Regions from separate parts of the Homo sapiens genome. Here all the other regions are reported to be linked to region 3. Evidence: microRNA targets listed by miRTarBase, many of them from high-throughput screens and not tested one by one. Region 3 holds a microRNA gene; each other region holds the end of a gene's coding sequence.

Region 1 (5,107 bases), not on the chromosome of region 3:
CATTACACACATGTTTATGGAGTAGTGGTTCCGTGCCATGCCCAATTCTGAGGATAAAAAACAATGAACAGGAGAGACAACATCTTTGTTCTGGCAGACATGAGAAAATATTTGTGCCCTGGTATGGAAAAAAAACACTTCCTGTTGATGAAAGGCAGGTATGATTGCAGCTCAGCTCCTCCGCTTCACACTTCCCTGTTAGATTTCATGCTTGCAAAGCAAGGAGATTTTACTAATAATATGCGGAAAGAGGAGAATGTATAGTGTGGCTTTTTGTTTGTTTTTTAAAGTCACATATTTAATCCTAGTTCAGGGTCACTGTGTTTTCATCAACTTAAAGAATCATTGTGACTCCCATCCTTGCCCAACCCATGAAAAATGGAATTCAGGAGATAGGCCCGAAAAATATTTTCTATATCTACATGAATCTCAAATCATCTTACTTGAGCATCATGGGTCACCATGAATGGGTATAGCATAGGCATAGAAACATATATATTTGGCCTGTCTTGTAGATTTTTGCCTACTCCTCCTTTATTTTTCTTTTTAAATTTCAGGTGGCCAGGAGATGGGGAAAGAGGAAAAACAAACCTAAGATGAATTATGAGAAACTGAGCCGTGGCCTACGCTACTATTACGACAAAAACATCATCCACAAGACAGCGGGGAAACGCTACGTGTACCGCTTTGTGTGTGACCTGCAGAGCCTGCTGGGGTACACCCCTGAGGAGCTGCACGCCATGCTGGACGTCAAGCCAGATGCCGACGAGTGATGGCACTGAAGGGGCTGGGGAAACCCTGCTGAGACCTTCCAAGGACAGCCGTGTTGGTTGGACTCTGAATTTTGAATTGTTATTCTATTTTTTATTTTCCAGAACTCATTTTTTACCTTCAGGGGTGGGAGCTAAGTCAGTTGCAGCTGTAATCAATTGTGCGCAGTTGGGAAAGGAAAGCCAGGACTTGTGGGGTGGGTGGGACCAGAAATTCTTGAGCAAATTTTCAGGAGAGGGAGAAGGGCCTTCTCAGAAGCTTGAAGGCTCTGGCTTAACAGAGAAAGAGACTAATGTGTCCAATCATTTTTAAAAATCATCCATGAAAAAGTGTCTTGAGTTGTGGACCCATTAGCAAGTGACATTGTCACATCAGAACTCATGAAACTGATGTAAGGCAATTAATTTGCTTCTGTTTTTAGGTCTGGGAGGGCAAAAAAGAGGTGGGTGGGATGAAACATGTTTTGGGGGGGGATGCACTGAAAATCTGAGAACTATTTACCTATCACTCTAGTTTTGAAGCAAAGATGGACTTCAGTGGGGAGGGGCCAAAACCGTTGTTGTGTTAAAATTTATTTTATTAAATTTTGTGCCAGTATTTTTTTTCTTAAAAATCGTCTTAAGCTCTAAGGTGGTCTCAGTATTGCAATATCATGTAAGTTTGTTTTTATTTGCCGGCTGAGGATTCTGTCACAATGAAAGAAAACTGTTTATATAGACCCCATTGGAAAAGCAAAACGCTCTCACTGAGATCAGGGATCCCAAATTCATGGGACTTATATAAGAAGGACAATTAATGCTGATTTGGGTACAGGGGAATTATGTGTGTGAATGTCATCTACAATTAAAAAAAATTAGCACATCCCTTTACTTACTTGTTATCAGTGGATTCTCGGGGTTTGGACTTAATGTTGAGCTAAGAAGCATTAAGTCTTTGAACTGAATGTATTTTGCATCCCTGGTTTTGGACGACAGTAAACGTAGGAGCACTGTTGAAGTCCTGGAAGGGAGATCGAAGGAGGAAGATTGACTTGGTTCTTTCTTAGTCCTATATCTGTAGCATAGATGACTTGGAATAAAAGCTGTATGCATGGGCATTACCCCTCAGGTCCTAAGAAATAAGTCCTGAATGCATGTCGTTCCAAACTAACACTCTGTAATTTTTCTTTTATGTCTTATTTTCCAAGAGTCCTCCATTTTTTGCACCCCCTCACCGCCAACTCTGTTATTCAGTAGAGAGAAGTGTACGGCTTTCTGATTGGTGAGTGAAAAAGTAACTTGAGACACGACCTAAGTTGAAGAGTTTAGACTTGCTGAGTTTTAGAAGTGATGGAAATTAAGAGAGCATTTCAATAAAATGTGACTTGGCTGTCTTTGGAAGAGAAGTGCAAGGCTTTCCTTTGAAGAATTTAAATTAGTCCGGTAGGATGTCAGGTGAGACTGTGTATGCAAAATGAATGGCACAGGTGATGCCAGGGCCTCTTGCTTGGGTCTGATGTCTTGGCACAGGGTAAGTGAAGGTTAATTCCAGAAGAGAGGAATGACTTGAAGGCAAAGGAAACTAAGGAAGGAGGTTCAGTGAGGAAAATAAGGTTGTCCATGAGATTTGAATAGATTTTTAGTTCCCCCAAGGTTTAAATACAAACATAGTCAAGCAAGGTAGTCATCTTTCTGCTGGTTGTGAGGGGGAATCTGAAAATGGAGTTTTAGAGGAAAAGTCAACATCTAACTAGTGAGGAAAAGTGCCTAATACAATTAGAATCTCCCTCACTCTATAGTTGCCCAGTTGAAAGGATAAGGAGGAGGGGTGGCTTTTATGGACTTCCATGAGAGAAGGAAAGAAATATTTCAGGTAAGCTTCTCAGGGCTGGCCCTTTTTGGGATTTGGATGAGAAATTGGAAGTACTAACTACTTTCTAGCATATCTTTAAGAAAATTGATTGTTATTTACTCCCAGATCCTCTTGCAGACCCAGAATTATCAGGAACATAGCTCTGTGATTCATGAGTGTCCCCATACTGATGAATTGGAGCATCCATATGGAAAGCAAAGGCAGAATTATCCCAGCTGTATTATTTTGATCTTTTGGATGCAGGTGCCTTAATGAAGCTCTCAAAATATTTTAGGAGCTGCTCAGGGAGTGTTGGGTGGAACTGTTTGGACTACATTGTTTTCTCTTAGATTATGTGATTTTTGTTGGGCACTGGCAAAAGGTGTGTGTGTGAATGTGTGCATGTGTGTGAATGTTGTGTGTGTGTGTGTGTGTGTGTGTGTGTGTGTGTGTGTGTGTGTTTGCAGACATGCAAAACTGCAGCTGAAATAATACCTTAGATTTCTAGGTAAGTCTTTCCACATTTCAATAATGGGTAAGAGTAGAACCAGGGCCGGGTATCAATTATTGCTTGCTGTTTGCAACCAGGCATAAAATCACTTTCTCAAATCATCCACCGTTCCTATTAAATTTATGCCGGAAACTCTCCTTCTGTGAGTATAACTCCTGCAGTTCCTATAGCAGATAAGATATAAGAAAGTGCCTCCTAGTGCTCCTCCGCCCGCTTGTTTGCTAAAATTCCCTTTCTCTCTAAGTCCACCATTTTCAAGATTTGTAGATAGTGTATTAGTTAAGACAGCTTTGTCGATCTGGCCAGATGTTTTTTCTCCTTTGTCCAAAGGCCAGAGACCATCCCAGGAAGAGTGGTGGGTGGTTTATACACTGGAAATGTTGCGTTTATGCTTTTTAAAAACACACGTTAACTTCAGAGGAAGGATGGGCAAATCTGGTCTAGCTGGGTGAAACCCTTATTTTCCCAGAGATGCCTTAACCTTTGTTGGTTTTGGCTTTAGGGTTCAGAGTCACTTTTGTTCCCTTCTCCATTCTGGAGAGGGACTTCCCCTACATAGAGCCCTGATTTTTGTGGCTGTGGGGATTGGAGGTAGCATTCAAAGATCAGATGTGCTTTTCCTCACTTTGGAGATGAACACTCTGGGTTTTACAGCATTAACCTGCCTAACCTTCATGGTGAGAAATACACCATCTCTCTTCTAGTCATGCTGTGCATGCCGCTTACTCTGTTGGGGTCTATATAAATTTGTTGAACTCTTACCTACATTCCAAAGAAGTTTCAAGGAACCATAAATATATGTATACATATACATATATAAAATATATATATTAAAATAAAATTATCAGGAATACTGCCTCAGTTATTGAACTTTTTTTTTTAAGAATACTTTTTTTTTAAGCTGAGAAGTATAGGGATGAAAAAGATGTTATATTGTGTTTGACTATTTTCCAACTTGTATTTTCATATAATTTATATTTTTTAAAAGCTGAAAATTTAGAAGCAAGATGAAAAAAAGGAAAAGCAGGTGCTTTTTAAAAATCAGAACTGAGGTAGCTTAGAGATGTAGCGATGTAAGTGTCGATGTTTTTTTAAAAAAAAATGCAAAAAAATTCTTATGGCGGAGTTTTTTGTTTGTTTATTTTAGTAGCTGATGCTGGCACATCATTTTGCTGGAGAGTTTTTTATATACTGTAGCCTGATTTCATATTGTATTTTAAACTGTGTGAAATTAAAAACAAAGAATTTCATTCATAATGCTGTGGCTTTGGCTTGATTCTTTCTTGTCTGGATCATGTATTAAAGCAGGACAAATCAACCAACCAGAGGCAAGCACAGAGGGATGCAGTTTAGTCTTTCTGATCTCACTAGCTCAGGACCATTGGAGATAAAGATTTCCTAATAAGGTGAGAAATATAACAGGAATATAGGGAAGTCATCGAACATCCCAATCTTTGAATATATTGTGTCATCCTTTGTGGAATGTCCCTGGCCTTGTCAGACCTCACTTCTTCATGTCCGAAGGACTAAGAGCCATGTGAAGGAAACGTTTAATGACTCAACAGATAAACATTTGATTTCAGCTACGTACCGTTCCTGATATGAATACAGAAAGTTGAACATCTTTAGTGGATCCTGTGGGAAATGAACAGTATTCTTGTGTCCACCACTGATACTAATTTTGCTCTATGGCAATTTGGGCCCTTCACATCCATCTCCTTGGCCCCAACTCTTTCACTGGGGCTGAAGATTGGGAATAATAATATCTGTCAGAACCCCTAGCAACACATGCCATAAATAAAATCATGTTTATAAGTGCTTTGGAGGGGAGTGCTTAGGAACACCTCATGCATGGTGCTTTTTCCTTGTTGCTGAAACTGTAGAAGGTGGATGTTTTTAATTAACACCAACATTTGCAACATGAATCCCAGCTCACAGCTGGAAAGAGAATTTTTGCTGAATTGTTCACAAAGAGAGCTCTGTTTTTGGAAAATC
Region 2 (5,107 bases), not on the chromosome of region 3:
ACCAAGTCACACATGTGGTAAGTAGGGCAGCCCAAGTTTGAACCATTCAGTCTACCTCAGGGCCCACCACGCTCCTGGCCACTTAACTGTGCCGCTCTAACCAGCTGAGCGAACCTGTGTGCAGAAGGCATTGTCTGTCTGGCCTCAGAGTATTTGTTTTTCATATAGTCATAACTATGCTCAAATTTTGTAATTTAAAATATGGGTCTTTAGGACATAAAGTGAAAGAACGTGTGTGATTTGGCTCAAGATATAGATTGCTTTCTATACCATAAAATCTGTAGCTCAGATTCCTTTAAAAAATGAAACTCTCTCATACTTTCAGAAAGAGGGAAGGCCTCATAAGCATTTTCCAAATTAGAATTTTTAAACCAGAGAGTGAAAGTGATATGCATTATGTAGAATTTTAAGGATTTTGTCCCTATGGACAGGGGAGAGTGTGAGTAACTATTATGTGGGTGCCATAAAGGGAGTAAAGCAATGCTGCATAATCCATTTGTTTTTTAGACTTCTAGGTTGCTCCATGGGAATCCCTCAACTCAACTCATTCTCTCTGCTGCATTTCCTCTACAACAGAGCACCTTCCCTCAGTCACATCACCAGCAACATCAGTCTCAGCAACAGCAGCAACTCAGCCGGCACAGGACTGACAGCTTGCCCGACCCTTCCAAGGTTCAACCACAGTAGCACACGTGCTTCCTCTCTTGACATCAAGGGAGGAAGGGGATGGCCCATTAAGAGTTACTCAGATGACCTGAGGAAAGGAGGGAAAGTTCCAGCAGTTTCATGAGATGCAGTATTGAGTGTTCTAGTTCCTGGAATTAGTTGGCAGAGAAAATGCTGCCTAGTGCTACAGATGTACATTAAATACCAGCCAGCAGGAGGTGATCATAGGGGCATAGCCAGTTCTGACAGTGTTTTAGGTGCCTGGATATTTTTTGATGGAAAAAGAATATATTGCCAAATATTAAGAAGCTCAGCTATGAAATGACCTCCAGGGAATCAGAAAGGCACTAATGATGTTAGTAACTTTTAGTGGTTCTGTGCCTCTTATCAAGTGTTACAGAGGACATACCACTGCCATGTCAGGGGTTTGCTTACAGTGATGCCATGAAGACAGTCCAGTAGACTTGGTAGCGACCCCCTCCCCCAACCCCTCTCCCTTTTCAGATAATGATGGAACAGTAATTACTTTCAGAATGTTGTGTGGGTTCAAATTCTCTATGTACAGATGATGTAAAAATATGTATATGTCTAGATAAAAGGAGAGAAAGCAAAACATTTTGTATGCTGCATGAAAGCGTTATCTCTTCCTTACAGGTGTGAGCACCTTTCCTGAAATTCTGACACCATGTGCAAACTGATCCATCCTGTTTTTCCTTTTGTTTACAACACAGTAGTGTTCTGTTCACTTTTCCGGGGCACAAGTTTTTTTGTTCATACTTTGGCTGTGATGTCACAGTTTGTTCAGTGAGGTATGATGTGCTGCTGGGAATGGATTTTTTTTTTCAGGTTAAATTATTGATACAACAGGATTTTCAAGTTATTCAGAAATATCCCTCATTTCATTATTTTTCAATTATGTTTGAAAATAGGATTTGCACTGCTTTATTTTAGGTGGCTGGGAGTTTTGATTGCATATTTTGTTATAGTTCATAGTTGGAAATATTTGCGTAAATGGTTTTCAACAAGCCTGAAAGTAATTTCAAGAATGTTTCAGTTATAGAGGTAAAATTTGCACACAAAACATCTTAGGCACTTTTTAACATTCTCAATCATGGGAATTTTAACTTTTGGGATTTGTTGAAATCTTTTTTATTATCCTTCACAATTTCAATGCTTCTTTTAGTCAGAAATGATTCAGGGTTATTTGAGGGGAAAAAACCCCATAGTGCCTTGATTTTAATTCAGGTGATAACTCACCATCTTGAAGTCATTGTCCGGTTTCCGTAGCAGTTTTGAAACCTTAGTACCTTTTTAACAGCATGTGGGTGTCAGTGTCATTATTAGTCTCCTAATAAGTTCCTCTGAAGACTGCTATCAGTCTCTTGGACTGGAGGTACAAATAATTTAGAAATAAAAGATGATAACCTAACACTATCATAGTTATTAATGTGATCCTAAAATTGTTTCCTAAATCAGCATTTTTCTTTAGTCATTTAAGAATTTACCAGAAATATTTGCTCAATATGATCTTGATATTCCTACAAAGAAAAAAGAAGGGGTAGGGATTTGGCTATGCCTTCACTACAACATTAGAATATTGTAACTCACATGCCTTCTAAACGTGAACTAAGATTTCCTTTGGCAATATCATATTCTAAAAGTAATAAATTCCAATACAAGTTACATACATTTAAAAAACATTTTACAGATTTTATGGTACTAATGAAATTTACAGTGATAGAACAAAAGAGGATTAGTAGAAAATACATTATTAGAATATAAAAAATGTTATTACTGAGGAAAGGGAGGAGAGGACAAGTGTAATAAATCAAAATTGACCTCAAAAGAAAATGTGTAACAGAGTTGAGGTTGTTAAAACAGAAAAGGTTCTGAATAATGAAGATTAACCTAATGCAGAATTGCTAGGTAAAGAGGTCAGGGGAATGCTAAGCCAGTTCTTAAGACTTCTCTGTCCTCTGCTTTGCTGTTATCCTTAAGGCATATACTTTGTCTTTCTGCAGAAAATTCTACCTGGCTACAATTACTTTGAACATTAATGTTGAAAAAGAAAACAACCAAAGAAAATTGGTACTTACCCTTCTACAAAAGAAGTGTGACTAGATATCAATCAGTAATTAACATATCAAGGAGCTCTTCTAGCTAAATGACCATCCAGTAGAGATTTCCCACATTCCCATGAATATCAAGAATAGTTGTCAGAATATGTATGTACCTGAGCATATGTACACAGACAAGGGGGATGTTGTGGAATATGGCAATAGCATTGTTCTTCTCCCCTTTCAAATTGCCTTTCTTGACCTTATGCCATTCCATATATATCTGAGTTGTGCCTCATTTATTTATTGGCAATACCTAGTGATACGGATTTAGCTAACAAAAGATATGAAGAACTATTATATTGAGGCCTGTCCTCTACATACCACACTTAAAAGATGGTGAACTGTGAGTACTACTTAGGTTGACAGCAACAAAGCATAAGACAAGCCCCAGGTAAACGTCTAAACTGTTTACTCACATTGTCCTACTCCAGCCCCTTCAATTATTTCCCATCTCCACAAATAGTCGGGGGAAAAAATTAAAATTTTCCTTTATGATTCTTACTGTTCTTCGCAGCTCATCTTTTCCTGCTTAGAATTAACCATTGCTAATTTAAAGGAGCAGCTAGCTGCTTTTCTGTCAGTCTGAAGCGTAGTAGTGGAAGAGGTAGTAAGCACCAGCTGCCTCTTTGCTGCTTTGTTTTCCTCCTGATTCTCTTAAATTTGGGTTGCAAAGCTATCCCGCCCCCCACCCTGCCCCATGAAACTTGAGCATTCAAATGAAGATTCAGCAGTGTCTGTTCTTCATTTCTATAGCCAAAGCTGTTAGTTAAAATCCCAAATCTATAGCATTTAAAGATACCAAATAGAAACACCTTCCAGCTTTAAAAAAAAAAAAAAAAAAGTCTTCCCTCTGCTTTATTCTCACTTTCTTAAAAACACTTATTCTGGGTGGTACTTTTTAGGTAAGAAACTACTGAGTTTCAGGAAAAATGCTAGCTACTCTGCAGTTACCGTGCTTTGGACTTGCAGTTATCATAGTTTTGGGAGAGTCAGTATTGTTTAACAAATGCAAGTGAGAACTAGAAGGGTTAATAAAGTTGCTCCTTAGAGTGGTGTCAAACCAGAACCGAGACACTTAAAAAGTACTTCATTTTTTGAATGGAAAATATTGGAGAAAAGTATGGGAGATGCAGGTAGCATGTGAGTAAATACTACGGTCTAGCCTTCGAGCATCCCAAATTCCGGGGGTAACTTGACAGTGCTGTGCTCTCCTTTGTCATTTATATCTGGCTTAGGAATGGAATAGTAATAACAAGATGCCAGTGATTTGGAATAGTTTGTTATAGAACATTCAGTGCAAAATAGTGAAAATGTTTGGTCTTCAGAAGTGCTGTAGTTGTTGGTCATTGCCTTAAAGCAGTCTGCTTGACGCTAGGAGCACTGAAGCAGTCCAGCTCCATCAAGAGCACTGTTGAAGGGAGAAGAACCCTTGTTCAGGAAGCCTTAGAAAGGGATCCTTAAAATAGTACTCTACGCAGACAAGTGAAAATTCTTTTAAACTGGATATTACTCAACATGTTTTCAGATGTTTCCACTACATTGAGGCAAACTTTTTAAAAGTGGAATGCAAATAGCATTTTACTTTAGTATTTCTGCTTTTTTCTTTCTGTTTCTTTGGTAATTGAAAGTTTGTTGATGAATATTTGTGTAAAACGCATTCAAGTCTATAACCTTTCCAATTACCTGTGGCCCTTAGTCCCACAGGAGTCCCTGTTGGAAGGGGGTAAACACTGGATATTAATGTTGCTGAGTGAGTCTTTCTAGCCAGGACAAGCTGATTGGAATTTTTGAATGGTAGAGAAGAAACAGCACAAAGGCACTTGCCATTTTAAGTGTTTGGAGAAAGAGAACCTTTTAAGTTTGGATTGGGTGAGCTTTCTTCTAAAAGGAGCTTCTGAAGTAATTGCAAAGGAATAGAATCGACTATTTTTATAGTATATTTAATATATTTGTATATAACTATAATAGGAACCCTCTACATGCCTCCCACTTTTCTAATTTACTTCCCCTTTTGCCATAGCACTAGTATAGCCTCATCCGCATGGGTAATGTGCCTATTGTCAGCCTACCAAAAGATAGTGCTGCTGCTTTATGAGACAGGTGAGAAGACCCAACTCTCATGCCTGGGGATCCTTTACGGAAGGAATAGCACACACTTTTAAAACAACATACCACAGTCTAAAAGCATCATTTTGAAATGTAACAAGCACTTTATTGCAATTACTCATTTTGATAAAGTTTATTCTTAGGCGTTAACCATTTCTAAAGGATCCCCAAATCATCACTTACTTAGGTGAAATTATATAAAATGACACATTTCT
Region 3 (5,107 bases):
GCGCGCGCACACAGGCGCGCCCTTGGATTCACGTGTGCCAGTTTTCCCACTTTCTACGGGGCGGGGTGGAAAGTGAAAATAGTCAGATCGACAGGTGGATATCCACCTTCCCAACCTCCACCTGAAATGTGCCCATCGAGTCCTAGCACCTTTTACCATTTCTTCCCAATGAAAAAAACTAAACGATGGAAGGGAAGGGAGTACCCACGACCACCAAACCCTGTCCTCTGCAATGTGAAATGTGCTTTGAAGTCCTCTCACCCTGAGGCTTGCCCGCCTTCTGCTGGTGAAAGAAGCTGGGGGCTAGGCGCGGTGGGTCACGCCTGTAATCCCAGCACTTTGGGAGGCCGAGGTGGGCGGATCATCTGAGGTGAGGAGTTCCAGACCAGCCTGGCCAACATGGAGAAACCCCGCCTCTACTAAAAATACAAAAATTAGCCGGGCATGGTGGAGGGCGCCTGTAATCCCAGCTACTTGGGAGGCTGAGGCAGGGGAATCGCTTGAACCCAATAGGCCGAGGTTGCAGTGAGCCAAGATCAGACCATTGCAGTCCAGCCTGGAGAACAAGAGTGAAACTCTGTCTCAAAAAAATATAAGAGAGAGAGAGAGAGAAAGCAGGGAGGGAAGAAAAAGGAAGGAAGGAAGGAAACGAGGGAGGGAGGGAAGGAGGGAGGGAGGAAGGAAGGAAAGGAGGGAGGAAAGGAAAGAAAAGGAGAAAAGAAAGAGAGAAGGCCGGGCGCGGTGGATCACACCTGTAATCCCAGCACTTTGGGAGGCCGAGGCGGGCAGATCTCGAGGTCAGGAGATCGAGACCATCCTGGCTAACACAGTGAAACCCCGTCTCTACTAAAAATACAAAAAATTAGCCGGGCGTGGTGGCGGGCGCCTGTAGTCCCAGCTACTCCGGAGGCTGAGGCAGGAGAATAGCGTAAACCCGGGAGGCGGAGCTCCCAGTGAGCAGAGATCGCTCCACTGCACTCCAGCCTGGGCGACAGAGCAAGACTCCATCTCCAAAAAAAAAGAGAATCAGCTGGGTAGAGGAGACGTACCTGACTGTCTACCCCATGACATGCCCCATGCCCCAGGGAAAAAAATTCCCTAAAGCATCTGATGCATAACGTGAATGCATACACATTTTTTAAAAGGTGGGCCAGGATGCTCCTTAAACAAGTGCCTAAACCTTATCTGCATAAGGAGTCTTAACCTATCATTTTATGTTGCAAAGAAAACGTCTTTATATATCGCTTGTGCAATTAAAAATTGTTACCAAAAGTACTTGAAGATTACGAGGAGTTGACACCTCCACACACATGCATATCCCCTCCACCTTGGGCTCCTTGCTTATGGCCACCAATCCCTCACTAAGGGAGGATCTTGCCAGTTCTAAATGATGGGGACTACAAAAATTACAAAAATTACCCGGCGTGGTAGCGCGTGCCTGTGGTCCCAGGAACTCAGGAGGGTGAGGCAGGAGGATGACTTGAGTCCAGCGGGTGGAGGCTGCAGTGACCTATGATCCTGCCACTGCACTCCAGGCTGGGCTGCGGAGGGTAGGGAGGGAGGGAGAAGAAGAAAGAGAAAACGCGGGGCACCATGGATGGCTGACTCCTGTAATCCCAGCACTTTGGGAGGCCGAGGTGGGTGGATCACTTGAGGTCAAGAGACCAGCCTGACAAATATGGTGAAACCCCGTCTCTACAAAAAAATACAAAAATTAACCAGGCATGGTGGCGCACGCCTGTAGTCCCAGCTATTTGGGGAAGCTGAGGCATGAGGATTGCTTGAACCCAGGAGCCAGAGGTTGTAGTGAGCCGAGATCGTGCCACTGAACTCCGGCCTGGGTGACAGAGCAAGACTGTCTCAAAAAAAAAAAAAAAAATCATTTAGATGAAGTGATTCATGCCTGTAATTCCAGTGATGGGAGGCTGAGACTGGAAGATCCTTGAGCCTGGGAGTTATAGGCCAGCCTGAGCAACATAGTGAGACCCCCATCTCTACAAAAAAAATATTAAATTTTTTTTTTCAGACGGAGTTTCACTCTTGTGGCCCAGGCTGGAGTGCAATGGTGTGATTTCAGCTCACTGCAACCTCTGCCTTCCAGGTTCAAGTGAGTCTCCTGCCTCAGCCTCCCAAGTAGCTAAGATTACAGACACATGCCACCATGCCCGGCTAATTTTGTATAAAAATTTAAAAATTTTTAAAATTAGACAAGTTAGAAATTGCTTGAGCAACTGGACACAATCTCTGGTACTACCTTTCTTTTTCTTTTTTATTTTTTTATTTTATTATTATTATTTTTTGAGAAGGAGTCTCGCTCTGTCGCCCAGGCTAGAGTGCAGTGGCGCAATCTCGGCTCACTGCAAGCTCTGCCTCCCGGGTTTAAGCCATTCTCCCGCCTCAGCCTCCCGAGTAGCTGGGATTACAGGCGCCCGCCACCAAGCCCGGCTAATTTTGTTTTTTTGTATTTTTAGTGGAGACGGGGTTTCACCGTGTTAGCCAGGATGGTCTCAATCTCCTGACCTCGTGATCCGCCCGCCTCGGCCTCCCAAAGTGATGGGATTACAGGCGTGAGCCACCGCGCCTGGCCCTCTTTTTCTTTATTGGTCAAAATATTATCCAACTAGGCATATGGATGTGGAGGCATGCCTGTGATCCCAATTACTTGGGAGGCTGAGGTGGGAGAATCGCTTGAGCCCACGAGTTTCAGGCTGTGGTGAGCCATAATGGTGCCTCTGCACTCCAGCCTGGGCAACAGGATGAGACCATTTCTTAAGGGGACGGAAAAAATCACTCTGGCTGTGGCAGATTTCCTTAGGATAGATTCCGAGAAGTGGAGTTATTGGGGAAAAGGCTGTTAATGATTTTAAGTCTTTGGATACAGACTGTTAAGTTGCTTTCCAGGAAGTTTCTGCCAATGATAGTGTGATACTTTCTGTGTCCTCACACCACCCTTTGTCAACACTGAGTGTTTTTGAGGGTTAATTATTTCTATGAGAGAAGTTAAAAAAAAAAAAGACAACAAAGAAATTGCTTCAGGTGGGGCATGGTGGCTCACGCCTGTAATCCCAGCACTTTGGGAGGCTGAGATGAGAGAATCACTTAAGCCTAGGAGGTGGAGGTTGCAGTGAGCCTAGATCGTGCCACTACACTCCAGCCTGGGCAACAGAGTGAGACTCCATTTCAATAAAATAAATCAAATGAATCAAACGTGAGCAACTCTCATAACTTCCAACATTTTTTTCTTCTTCCTGTTGGTGGTTCTGCCTCTCTGGCTCCATTAGGATTTCCCTACTCCATTTCAGTCATGGGAGCCGAGTTTCTGTTCCTGAAACACACCAGGCCTTTCTGGCCTCTGGATTTTTGTACTTGCTGTTCCCGCCATCTGGAATGCCTTCCCTGCATTTGTTCCCATCAGGGTTGGGACTAGCAAAGTGACAGGTGATGGAGTTGCTGAGGGTGCAAAATTTAAGGAGGCACCTACTCCCAGGGTCATGCAAAAGCCAACTTTGCATTTGCACAATCCTGTGAGTGAGTCCCTCCTTAAATTTGAGGCTGTACTGTAATCCCAGCTACTCAGGAAGCTGGGGCAGGAGAATTGCTTGAACCTGGGAGGCAGAGGTTGCAGTGGGCCGAGATCCTGCCATTGCACTCCAGCCTGGGCAACAGGGCGAGAATCCGTCTAAAAAAAAAAATGAGGCTCTAGGCACCACATTTGCCCTACTCTGGCCCCTGCCCTGATTTTCCTGGCCTGTCTCATCTCCAGACAGGTTTGCTTTGACCTCCCTGCCCATAAAAGCTGGCCAGTGCCCTTTCCAGGTACTCTGTCATATACCCTATTTCTTTCCTTGGTAGTACCCAGCACCATCTGCAAGTATTGGGTTTCTTTGCACATTTAGCATCTGTCCAACCCTTAGTATATCAGCTTTGCAAGAGCAAAGGTCACATCTATCTCAGCCTACCTCCTCCATACTCAGCACACAGCACAGCACCTGACCATAGGAAGCACTCAAGAAATGGGAGGAATGAAATGGAAATTATCTAAAATAAGGATCAAGATTGATACAGAAGTATTCATCTCAGTTTTACTTATTAATAGCAAAACAAAAACAAAACACCTGGAAACTATACTAATGCTCAACAATAGGAAACTGATTAGGATGCAGTACATTCAGAGCTGAAATTTTCTGCAGCCATTACAAATTATATTTGTGAAGATTTTTTTTTTTTTTTTTGAGATGGAGTTTTGCTCTTGTTGCCCAGGCTGGAGGGCAATGTCTCGATCTCGGCTCACTGCAACTTCCGCCTCCCGGGTTCAAGCGATTGGTCTGTCATTTTCAGACCCCACAGAAACACAGGTGCTCCTGCCAGGCCCCCGGGGACTGCCTCCAGGAGTCATTTGTAATGACAGGGTGCGTTCTGCGCACGGTTTCAGAGTCTGTCCAAAGGGCCAATGCTGGGGCTGGGGCAGAAACGGTCCAAGGCCTGTGAGCTGTGCAGCTTTATAGGCAAATGAAGATCGTTTACCCAGAATTGCCTGCTGGAGAGAGCATAGAGGAAGTGGCGGCAGCTTCACCAGTTCCAGGAAGCCCAGGCAGCCTGGTCCCCCAGGGTGCACCTGGCACAGCAGTTCGCACAGGGCCAGAGAGCGGCAGCTGACCGCTGCAACTACAGCTGGCCTGACACCGGGCACAGGTACCAGCCCAGCCCAGTCCCGCCCAGCGCAGCCTGCGGCCCCTAGCGGAGCCAGCACCTGGCAAACCTGACACCCAGCCTTGGAGCTTGGGCCCCCCTCTGCAGCTGGCTGGGGCTCCTGAGACAGCTTCTTTGTCGGAATCCACTCGGTACACACACGGTCCCTAACTTAGTGGCTGCCCAGTGAACATGGGGCTTAGTAGAACCAGTACCTTCCTCCCTGGCCCCTTCAAGTCTAAATATCCCCTGCTCTGAGTACAAGCTTCCACCTTCTCCACCGACAGACAGCCCCCACCATCTCCACCGACAGACAGCCCCCACCATCTCCACCGACAGACAGCCCCCACCATCTCCACCGACAGACAGCCCCCACCATCTCCACTGACAGATAGCCCCCACCATCTCCACTGACAGA
Region 4 (5,107 bases), not on the chromosome of region 3:
AGATCAGTGGGAAACGTTTTGTTATCAGCAATACCTGCCATGGATTCTGGGGTTTAGTGTCACTACGTGTGTTCTCTTTGGCCTGAGGAAGGATCTGTCCATTGACTTTGTTTTTCATGTGTTTTTCCTTTCTAGTTAAAAACTTCTTCAGAGTCAGTTTCAAAAATGGATCCCAAAGTCAGACCCACTCGCTACAAGCCAATGACACTTTCAACAAACAGCAGTGGCTTAACTGTATTCGTCAAGCCAAAGAAACAGTTTTGTGTGCTGCCGGGCAAGCTGGGGTGCTTGACTCCGAGGGATCGTTCCTAAATCCCACCACCGGGAGCAGAGAGCTACAGGGAGAAACAAAACTTGAGCAGATGGACCAATCGGACAGTGAGTCAGACTGTAGTATGGACACGAGTGAGGTCAGCCTCGACTGTGAGCGCATGGAACAGACAGACTCTTCCTGTGGAAACAGCAGGCACGGTGAAAGTAACGTCTGACAGAAGCATGTGCACTTCGGGAAGCAGGCCTGCATCTTACCTGTACAGTATTTGCATTCCACAGATGGAACGGTTTGGAGAAGCACTTTTTCATACTTTTGTGAAAGTATACATGTTGGCCCAGTCTCTCGTATCTGTACCTTTGTCCCTAGTACTGTAACTGCCAATCTGTCTGTGTAAGCTGGAATCTGTGGCAACTATTACCCTGTGTTGTATTTCCCAAGTGTCTGGATGGATGGAGAGGTACTCAAACAAGTTACTTTCAGTTGTCCTGCTGGATTTTAAAAAAATAGAAAAAGAATCTCAAAACTACTGTTTTACATAGATTGTTTGAAGAGTCCTTCCTCTTGTGCTTCTGTACCACTTTCCCAGCTCTTAGATGTGGTAGCTAAAGGCACGGAATTTAGACGGCCTTGTAAATAGGGCATGAGGAACTCATCTGTGTATTGGGATGGTATTAGAGAGAGAATCAGGAAAGACCAACTCATGAAGTGAACTTGGTTTGATCTTACTCAACTAGAAAGCTTGAAAACATCCCTGGGGATTCTGAAGGCTTAATTTTGCAAAGGAGGATGCATTGTCTGAACTTTGCAACTTCATCCAGTGCAAGTTTGATGCAAGAATGTATTAGGACATAAAATAGAGGCTGACCTTAAAAGGGCCAGGACAGAAGCGGCTGCCAGCTCTGAATCTTTAACTGAAATGCACATGGCACCAGGAGGTGTCTCTCATAGTTGGTTGCTAGCCTAAAACATCAGAATAGAACCCAAAGGGCTTAGGAAGGCCTGCCAGGATAACAAGAAGGCCCTGTATTCATTGTGTTTCATCTGCCTAGGCCTACTCATTATTTTAGAGAATGAATGAAGCAACAAGGAAGAGAGACCATGACTCTATCGATGACACTGTTTATAGAAACACAGGAGAGGAAGAATTTGGAATGAAAAGCACTTCGTCAGAACCTTCTGTGGGAGCCATTGAGAGAAAAGCATGGTCCAGTGCCTTCTGAGAAAGGCCAGAGCTTTGGGCTTTCCTGCTCTGCTTTTGGGTCGTCAATTTGCCATCTCTGGTTCTGTGCTATAATCAGAATTGTAATTATGTTCTCCAGAGGCCAATTTCATTAACTCTGATTAATTAGAATCAGCTAGCCAGATTAGTAACCTCTTTGTCCAGCCTTGATTTACAGTGCAGGGTAAAGTGCAGACCTTAAAAACAGCTAAGTACCTAGAAGAGCTCCCTGCAAGTGTAAATATTAAGGATGACCTGTGCAAAATTATACCCACACCAGCACTAGTGGTAATTATTCTAAATTATTGCCAAAAAGTTTTTTTTAATCTGTCTTTCAAGTTTACAGAAAAGAAAGCAGTAAATGCATTGATGTCATTTTATTATGTACATATATCATGTGCATTCAAGCTGTGTGACAAGATATATCAATATAAAAACAAGGTATATACTTTATTATTTTTTGAAAACAAGGATATTGTGATCAATTTTACCCTGTAAAACATATTTCTGTATTTATAGGTCTTAAACATGATGAATTTTTTCTATTACAAGTTTATTTAAAACTGCTTTCTCAAGTCGTTATTGATACAGCAAGTGAACCTGCTGCAGACAGAAGCAGAGGAAAGCCAAGAACAGCCTTTATTGGTGAAGAAAAGAATGAATGATTCTTTGTAGGCGCCATCAGCCACTTTTAGAAGCCATCAGCCAGTGTGTTGGGAAAAGAGGTTTGTCAAGTGTTGGCCTATGGGAAGGTGGTCAATGAATGTTTTGATGAAATGAATGTTTTTGTATAATGGCCTTAAACTTTTCTGGAAGTATTTCAAATAAATTACATTATTAAGTCATCCTCCATGTGTACAGTGTTTGTCCTACAAACAAAATACAGGTTTCAGCTGTGTTCCTGGGGAGGTTCTTTCTGAAATTTTTGTTTGTGGTTCCTGAATACAAACTTTAAAATAGGATGCAGATTGATACAAATGCTTTTATTTGATCTATCAAAACTTTCACAGAACTCATTTTTTTTTTCTTTCTTTCTTTTGAAACAGGATCTCACTCTGTCACCCAGGCTGGAGTGTGGTGGTGTGATCATAGCTCACTGCAGCCTCAAATTCCTGGGCTTATGCAATCCTCCTGCCTCAGCCTCCCAAGTAACTGGGATTACAGGTACACACCACCACATCTGGCTAATTTTTAAATTTTTTGTAAAGATTGAAGTTTCACTATGCTGCCTAGGCTGGTCCTGAACTCCTGGCCTCAAGTGATCCTTCTGCCACAACCTCCTAAAGTGTTGGGATTACAGGCGTAAGCCTCTGAGTCTGTCCAAGAACTCATAATTCTAAAATCTGTTTTCTCAAGCATTCTCTATTCATTCACTTATTTATGTGTTCACTTTTAATAACTCTATCTGGAATCCATACTATGTATAAAGTCAAGTGGTAAGTCATAGTTGTTATAGAAAAGAAATGTTGAATCTCACTGCTAATATAGGTAACTGTTGAGGAACTTGAGGCTAAATAAAAGAAGGCAAATTTCACTTTGAAATTCTTACTGGAATTTCAGTCTACTTTAATTAAAATGATTAGTACTCTTTCTAGTCTGAGCACAGTGGCTATACCTCTAATCCTAGCAGTTTGGGAGGCCAAGGCAGGTGAATTACTTGAGCCCAGGAGTTCAAGACCAGCCTAGGCAACATGGCAAAACCTCATCTCTACAAAAGCACAAAAATTAGCCAGGCTTGATGGCATGTGCCTATAGTCCCAGCTACTCAGGAGGCTGAGTCGGGAGGATCCCTTGAGCCTAGGAGGCAGAGGTTGCAGTGAGCTGTGATCACACCATTGCACTCCAGCCTGGGTGACAGAGTGAGAACCTATCTCAAAAAAGAAAAAAAAGATTAGTACTCTGTCCCACAATGAGTGAGGTTTTTTAGATGAAAAGGCTAAACATTTTTAAGCTGTTAGTAGCCAATTCTCAATAGCACATTGGCCCAATAAGGCTGGTAGTTAGTCTTATCTTTACAATAAGCTCTCACCATTTTCTTTTTTTTCTTTTTCTTTTTTTTTTTTTTTTTTTTTTGAGACAGTCTCGCTCTGTCACCCAGGCTGGAGTGCAGTGGTGCGATCTCAGCTCACTGCAAGCTCCACCTCCTGGGTTCATGCCATCCTTCTGCCTCAGCCTCCCAGGTAGCTGGGACTACAGGCGCACGCTGCCACGCCCGGCTAATTTTTTGTATTTTTAGTAGAGACGGGGTTTCACCGTGTTAGCCAGGATGGTCTCGATCTCCTGACCTTGTGATCTGCCTGCCTCGGCCTCCCAAAGTGCTGGGATTACAGGCCTGAGCCACCACGCCCGGCCAGCTCTCACCATTTTCTTTAACATACTGTTAATTCCCAAATTTGGCAAGATATTCACATAAATAAATATAAGTCCAAATTTTTTCCCAAATGCAAAGTCGCTTCTCCTAATTTTTTTCTTCCTCCTCCTCCTCATCTTTTTTGTCCGTCCTCTTTTCTCACTGCTGCTTTGGCTATTCCCTCTGTTTTTCACTCCTATAATTGTACTGACTGTCAATGCTAAAGGATGTATCTTACAGTATATTAGAAGATGTTTGTACTGACATTTTGTGGGTTAGTACAAATGAGTGAGGGCTAAATGGTTTTTCTTCAGTCAATTTTCAAGATGTTATTTCACATACAACTAGATGTAATCCTTGCAGTCTAAATGAAAACTCATAAGCAATGAACAGAGCCAGAACTAGCAATTTTCTGTAAAATTAGAGCATGGTTTCAGCTTCTGGGTTGTGGTCACCGCCACTGACTGCTTTAGTTTCCATTCCCAGCACAGTCTGCGGCAGCTAAGAATGCACAACTCTTCATAACCACAGCCCTGTTTCAACAAAGACTGTGTGGCTGCAGGAAACTGCAACCCACCATCTTGGTGAAGAGCCTGTTCAACTTTCCATTTACATTCTGTCCATGTCCGTTTTTTACTAATTCTCCCAAAGCCTGAGGACTCTCAAAGATTTGGCAAAGAAACTGTCTGGCCAATCAGTTTCACTCACCTGGTTCCCCTTGGCATTGAGGAGAGAAGACACTGAATACCCCCCCTTATTGATGCAGCTGATTCAATTAATTCACACTAGCTTGTTTATTGACAGAATTCTAGAACTACACTATTGGAAGGGAAGAGGGTTACCCAAGCCCAAACCTACCAGTAAAAATCTGACAATCATCAAAATTTAAAACCTTGTCCGCATGAGCACACAGTGAGAAAAGGTGACCGTATTCACTGTACCTGAAGGGTATTGAGGGAAACAAGTTGGAAAAAAAAATGCTCATGACATCATATCTCCTTTCTCCAGGCTTGGTTCATATATCAGTCAGCTGCACAGACCTACCTAGTCAAAGCAGTTTTCAGTTGACGTGAGGGAATAGCAAGGAATTAGAAGTCATGCACTGTATCTTTAAGAGCTAATCACTTAGCCTAGGAAACTGGACATGCATTCCAAAGCTTGTCCACATGCAAACATACCTAGGTATTAATGAACTGTGCTCTCTCATCTGTGAAAGGTTTGAAAATGACATCCTACAAGTGTTTTATTCTCTGTTGCCAGGGAC
Region 5 (5,107 bases), not on the chromosome of region 3:
AGGGGCCCCATTTTGAGCAGATCAACCAGCACTGGAAGTGCAGCCAGCTCTGGGAGCAACAGCAGTGCCTCTTCTGAACAGGGACTGTTAGGAAGGTCACCACCAACCAGACCAGTCCCTGGTCATAGGTCTGAAAGGGCAATCCGGACCCAGCCCAAGCAACTGATTGTGGATGACTTGAAGGGTTCCTTGAAAGAGGACCTGACACAGCACAAGTTCATTTGTGAACAGTGTGGGAAGTGCAAGTGTGGAGAATGCACTGCTCCCAGGACCCTACCATCCTGTTTGGCCTGTAACCGGCAGTGCCTTTGCTCTGCTGAGAGCATGGTGGAATATGGAACCTGCATGTGCTTAGTCAAGGGCATCTTCTACCACTGCTCCAATGACGACGAAGGGGATTCCTATTCAGATAATCCTTGCTCCTGTTCACAATCACACTGCTGCTCTAGATACCTGTGTATGGGAGCCATGTCTTTATTTTTACCTTGCTTACTCTGTTATCCTCCTGCTAAAGGATGCCTGAAGCTGTGCAGGAGGTGTTATGACTGGATCCATCGCCCAGGGTGCAGATGTAAGAACTCCAACACTGTCTATTGTAAGCTGGAGAGCTGCCCCTCCCGGGGTCAGGGTAAACCATCATGATTTTTGGAGGTGGGTTGTACCTCCTGAACTTTTAGCTTTCAAGTTGTGGCTGTTTTTTGTTTTTGTTTTTGTTTTTGTTTTCTTTAGAATTTTTCCCTGTTTCCCACCTTCTCTTCCCCTGTTGCCAAGGTCTAACTCATGGATTTTTCTCTTTCCTCATGGATGATCTTCAGCAAGAGTGGACTGGGAAGCTGCACCTGGCTCCCACTTTCAACAAGAGCCTCTGCCATCCACTTGAGGGTATTGAGAGCCAGTGGGCTTTTGTGTAGCCTTTTTGTTCTGCAAGCAACTTTCTAAAGTTGTGTACATGAACATACACCCACATCCAGACTACAGTGATTTAGAGTTGTTTTGATTGGGTACCGTGGGAGCAGGGAAATTGGTTTTTTAAAAAGCAACTGTTTAATTGCTTAAATAAGCTATGTATTAAATCTGTCTCCAGTTAGGGCTATCTTCCTAGCATAGGCCCCTTAAGTAGCATGGGGGATATATTTTTTGCTATAACGTAAAAATTTTCCTTTAACCACTGCCCTCTCCTTCTTTCTCCTTCAAGGTTCTTTCCCCCTCAGTTTTGTTGTTGTCTTACTCTGGAGATGCCAAGTGTATTTTTTCTTTCTATGTAATTTTAGATTCGCCTTACAATGTAAATCTTCACATTGGAGATAATATTGGTTGGACCTTGCCCATCTTCACTCTAGCCTTCGTATTTGTGAAGGACTCAGCCACCTTCCTTCTTCACCCCATGCTTCTCACCAAATTTTTGTTGTCATTGAGGGCACTTGGATAACTCAAGTTGATATTTATAGCTGATCAATCTATATGTGTCACAGAACTATGCTGCCTAAAGTGATCTTGGCTCCTTAATGGTCCTTTTGGCCCCTTGGATAGTTAACAGCTGAGTAATTCTAATCTCTTCTGTGTTTTCCTTGCCTTAACCACAAATTGTGGTGCTTTTTGTATATTTTATGTATAAATCACAAAGTTGAATTCTGACTATTTTTAAGACAAAAGTCTGTTAAACTTTTTTATTGTAAAGAATATTTATTATGCGAATCTCTATTATTTTATGGTATTTATTGCAAAAGACTGTTGAAATGTACTCATGTTTGAATATAACAAAATATCAATACTTAACGGAAAATAAGGTGACACGAAGAAAGTACATATGTTAACTATAATGCAGAAAATATATTAATTAATGAAACTGTCTCTCGATTTCTTCATTTATTAGCCTGTACTATTATGATGATTTTTGCTTATTTGCTTTGACTTTTTCTTCTTACACACCCATTTTACTTCTTTCCCTATAGATGTTGAATCTAGACATAGGTGAGCCCAAATTATGAACTGGATAATTAGGTTGGTGCAAAAGTAATTGCAGTTTTGGGTCATTTTTAATGGCAAAAACACAGTTACTTTTGCACCAACCTAGTATTTCCTGGAAAGTGCATTAATCAAAATTTTGTAATCCAAATTATCTTTTAACAAATGCTCAAGTGAGTTATTTTGTACAGTAAAAATTTTTTGTAATACTCTCTCCCTACTTTGACTATTTTGTAAGCATGAGGTTTTGTGTATATTATAGTTTCTTGAAATGGGGCATATCTACAGTAGAAGCTTTTTTAAATGTTTATCCTAACTTTTAAGTTAATAAAAAGTTAGATTTATCAGCTAGACTTAATGAACTTAGTTCTGTAGATATGCTAGGAGTCGCTGGTACTGTCACTTTAATAAAGCATTCTAGAAGTTACCAAGGGAATAATTCACAGTATCAGAGACATTTCAAAAACATTCCTGTCCCTGTCTTTTCACTTGTTTCGTAAGTCTAATGTGGCCTGACCAAATTACACCTCATCAAGTCCTGTGCAATAAGAAACCTGAAGGCCTAAAATTTTACGTAGAAAAAGTGTTTTAAATCTTATTTTTTAGGCTGGTGAAACCACTACATAGCTGGAATCTTTGGGTCTGATAAAATATTTGGTCATTTGAGTCCTCAGAATACACCGTTTTTAAGTTTGATAAAATTTTATTCATGTGAGTCCTCAGTCTCACTAACTCCCTAAGTGATACATCAGTCATTATCTGCATTTGAAAATAATTCTTTGCATTTGAGAATAAGATACTGACATAATTTGAACCCAGGTTATCAAAGCTCTTATCCAGCTTTTTGTTTTGGTCATTATTCATGGATGGCTCGGCTGTTAGTTTAAGACTACGTATTTGTTCTTTGTAAATAGGCTTTGACTTTGTTTTATATAGACAAGGTATAATTGGTAGAAACTTGTTTTAGTCCTTTTCCATCAAGCCGCTAAACCTATTAGTTGGCAATGTGATATTTAATCCATCAAATATTTCCTTTATGCTTTGAAAGCAGGAGGATTTTTAAAAGTAAATAGTTGTTTTGGAGGCTACTTCATGATCTGTAGCACTTAAAAATGTGAACTTGAGTGTTTTCCTCTGATATTCAAGTTATGTGATGTTATCACTGGTCCTTTCATATTTATAGAGTATTTTCATTGAGATGTGGCTTCTTAATGAAGTATATGAACACAGACTTCTTCAAAATACTCTTTGGGGCTTTTTTCCGGTATTATTCAGACCCTTAGTATAATTAGTTGGAGTCAGAGCTGTCTTTAGCTGTAATAACCAGACTAAGAAGCAGTAGCTTTTACTGAAAGAAATTTATAACTTTTATGAGAATGAAGTATGCTGTGGAGTTTTAACTTCTGGCTATATATATGCAGAATACATGAAAAATATTAAGATGCTGGTCTGCTGCTTCGAGGACTGTATATGAACTCTGGCATAATGGCAAGTCTGTACTTGGAAGGAACGATCGGTTAGAGGTTCAGATTTCTAAGAGGCTTGTCAGGTGGCAAAGCATAAACACTGATTCGAAATGTCCTCCTTTGTGATGGTTTAAACCTAGGAAGAAGAAATATAAGAGTGTGTCCTCATAAGAGCTTATGGGCCCTAGGCTCTTGAACCTAATGCTGATCATCATTTTAAAGTGCTTAGACTTTGAAAGCATCAGCTGAAATTTTTTACAATGCCGCTGCCACTTATTTAATACTGTTGAATGAAAAACAACATGCCAAACAGATGGGATAACCTTTTTATTCCACACATTTGTCCCTCTTCCCCTACTAGTACAGCTTGACAGAATGGATGTTTTTGTTACCTGGTTCCTTTCCAGTATATTTTCTGACTGCCAATTTTTTCATTTCAAACAAGCCTTATTTAGATAGTTTAATAGTGAATAAACCAACATAGGACTTTTGTAATTGAGTAGTTTCCTGTTTACAGAGTTTATAAAATGTAACCTAGCAGAAAAAATGGAATGTGAAAAAGTAGACTTTTTTGTGTGTGAAGACCTAAAGTGAATCTGCAAATATAGGATTATAATTACATGGTTTCCAAAATTCAAACCACAAAATATTTCCATTATTACTAAAAAATAAAAATTAAAGCTTTAAAAATAATGGTCTTTAAAGTGAAAAATAAGTTTAAAACTATGTTTTTATCCTAAAATCGATAATGAAACCAGACTCAGGTGATTAATTTCCAGAGGATTTAATTTTTGAAATTATCCATTTTTCCTAAATCTTTTTTTAATGGAGTGGTGTATTTCGTAGCAGACTATCTATCGATATCTATAGATAGATATCTCATTAAAAAACAATCCCTTTTGAAATATATTGAAATATTGAAACAAACTGGAAAAGTGTCTAAAAGCAGTTCTCATCCTAAACTCTCACTATACATTTTCTTTTTAATTGGCAAGAGTGTTGGTGTTTTTAAATATGTTGAAAACAAAATTTTTAAGTCCTTTTGGCTAATTGATGGTTGGATGGTTGTTTTTTCCATTACTTCACTGATTAGCTATAATCAAAATAGCCATGTATATACTTACCTGATAGCTATTGATTCTTATAGTAGTCTCTCAGATTATTACTAAGCCATTTTGCTATTATTGAACACCTCATAGGGGCATTATTCTGTATACAGTAGAATTCTAGAACTAGAAATATATCTTAGAGTTTATCTTAATGTTTCTCAATCATGTATGAAAAGAAATAGATATCTAGTTTAAAAATTAAAAATTCAGAAGTGTGTGTCATAGCTCAGACCTGTATTAGAATAATCTCCGGGGGTGGGGGCCTGGTATTCGTTATTTTCAAAAAGCTTTTTGGGTGATTGTATCAGGCAACTTTGGAACTGATTTATGTAGCTCACTGTCTTCATTTTGAAGATGTACAAACAAAGTCATGGCTTGAGAAGAAAAACTGTCCATGTTTTAGCAAGGGTAAAGCCTGAACTCTTTCATCTGACACAGGATTTTCTTCATTTCTTGTTTGTTTGCTTTTTGGGATGAGGTCTCGATCTGTCACCCAGGTTAGAGTGCAGCAGTGGCTTGATCACCACTCACTGCAGCCTCAACCTCCTAGGCTCAAGCAGTCCTCCT

What was found. Region 3 holds the annotated microRNA hsa-miR-3680-3p (UUUUGCAUGACCCUGGGAGUAGG, at 3,477-3,499, opposite strand). A microRNA usually pairs through its seed, bases 2 to 8, with sites in the 3' UTR of a target mRNA and lowers its output. Matches are read on the target gene's strand: a 7mer-m8 pairs with bases 2 to 8, a 7mer-A1 pairs with bases 2 to 7 and ends in A, and an 8mer does both.
Region 1: the mRNA of ETS1 is a reported target of hsa-miR-3680-3p. Seed matches in the 3' UTR shown: 8mer at 2,217-2,224, 8mer at 3,071-3,078 and 8mer at 4,214-4,221.
Region 2: the mRNA of CLOCK is a reported target of hsa-miR-3680-3p. Seed matches in the 3' UTR shown: 7mer-A1 at 4,082-4,088 and 7mer-m8 at 4,351-4,357.
Region 4: miRTarBase lists ARHGEF3 as a target of hsa-miR-3680-3p. Seed matches in the 3' UTR shown: 7mer-A1 at 1,752-1,758.
Region 5: the mRNA of SPRY1 is a reported target of hsa-miR-3680-3p. Seed matches in the 3' UTR shown: 7mer-A1 at 1,720-1,726.

The regions. Positions count from the first base shown.
Region 1 is chr11:128,458,027-128,463,133 of GRCh38, reverse strand. It overlaps ETS1 (ETS proto-oncogene 1, transcription factor), which reads left to right. Exons shown (of 10, transcript NM_001143820.2): 10 at 558-4,369. The coding sequence ends at 773. Among named protein-coding and RNA genes, the nearest start is that of MIR6090, 62 kb to the left of the region's middle.
Region 2 is chr4:55,430,995-55,436,101 of GRCh38, reverse strand. CLOCK (clock circadian regulator) reads left to right here. Exons shown (of 23, transcript NM_004898.4): 23 at 508-5,107. The coding sequence ends at 687. It also overlaps a transcript of TMEM165 not described here. Among named protein-coding and RNA genes, the nearest start is that of TMEM165, 38 kb to the right of the region's middle.
Region 3 is chr16:21,502,588-21,507,694 of GRCh38, forward strand. MIR3680-1 (microRNA 3680-1) reads right to left here and starts at 3,548; the gene lies at 3,462-3,548. The region is part of intron 1 of LOC124903662 (a long non-coding RNA gene); the gene reads left to right. RefSeq lists an enhancer at 1-428.
Region 4 is chr3:56,724,651-56,729,757 of GRCh38, reverse strand. It overlaps ARHGEF3 (Rho guanine nucleotide exchange factor 3), which reads left to right. Exons shown (of 10, transcript NM_019555.3): 10 at 136-2,338. The coding sequence ends at 488. Among named protein-coding and RNA genes, the nearest start is that of TASOR, 44 kb to the right of the region's middle.
Region 5 is chr4:123,401,910-123,407,016 of GRCh38, forward strand. SPRY1 (sprouty RTK signaling antagonist 1) reads left to right here. Exons shown (of 3, transcript NM_001258038.2): 3 at 1-1,846. The coding sequence ends at 642. Among named protein-coding and RNA genes, the nearest start is that of SPRY1, 7.7 kb to the left of the region's middle.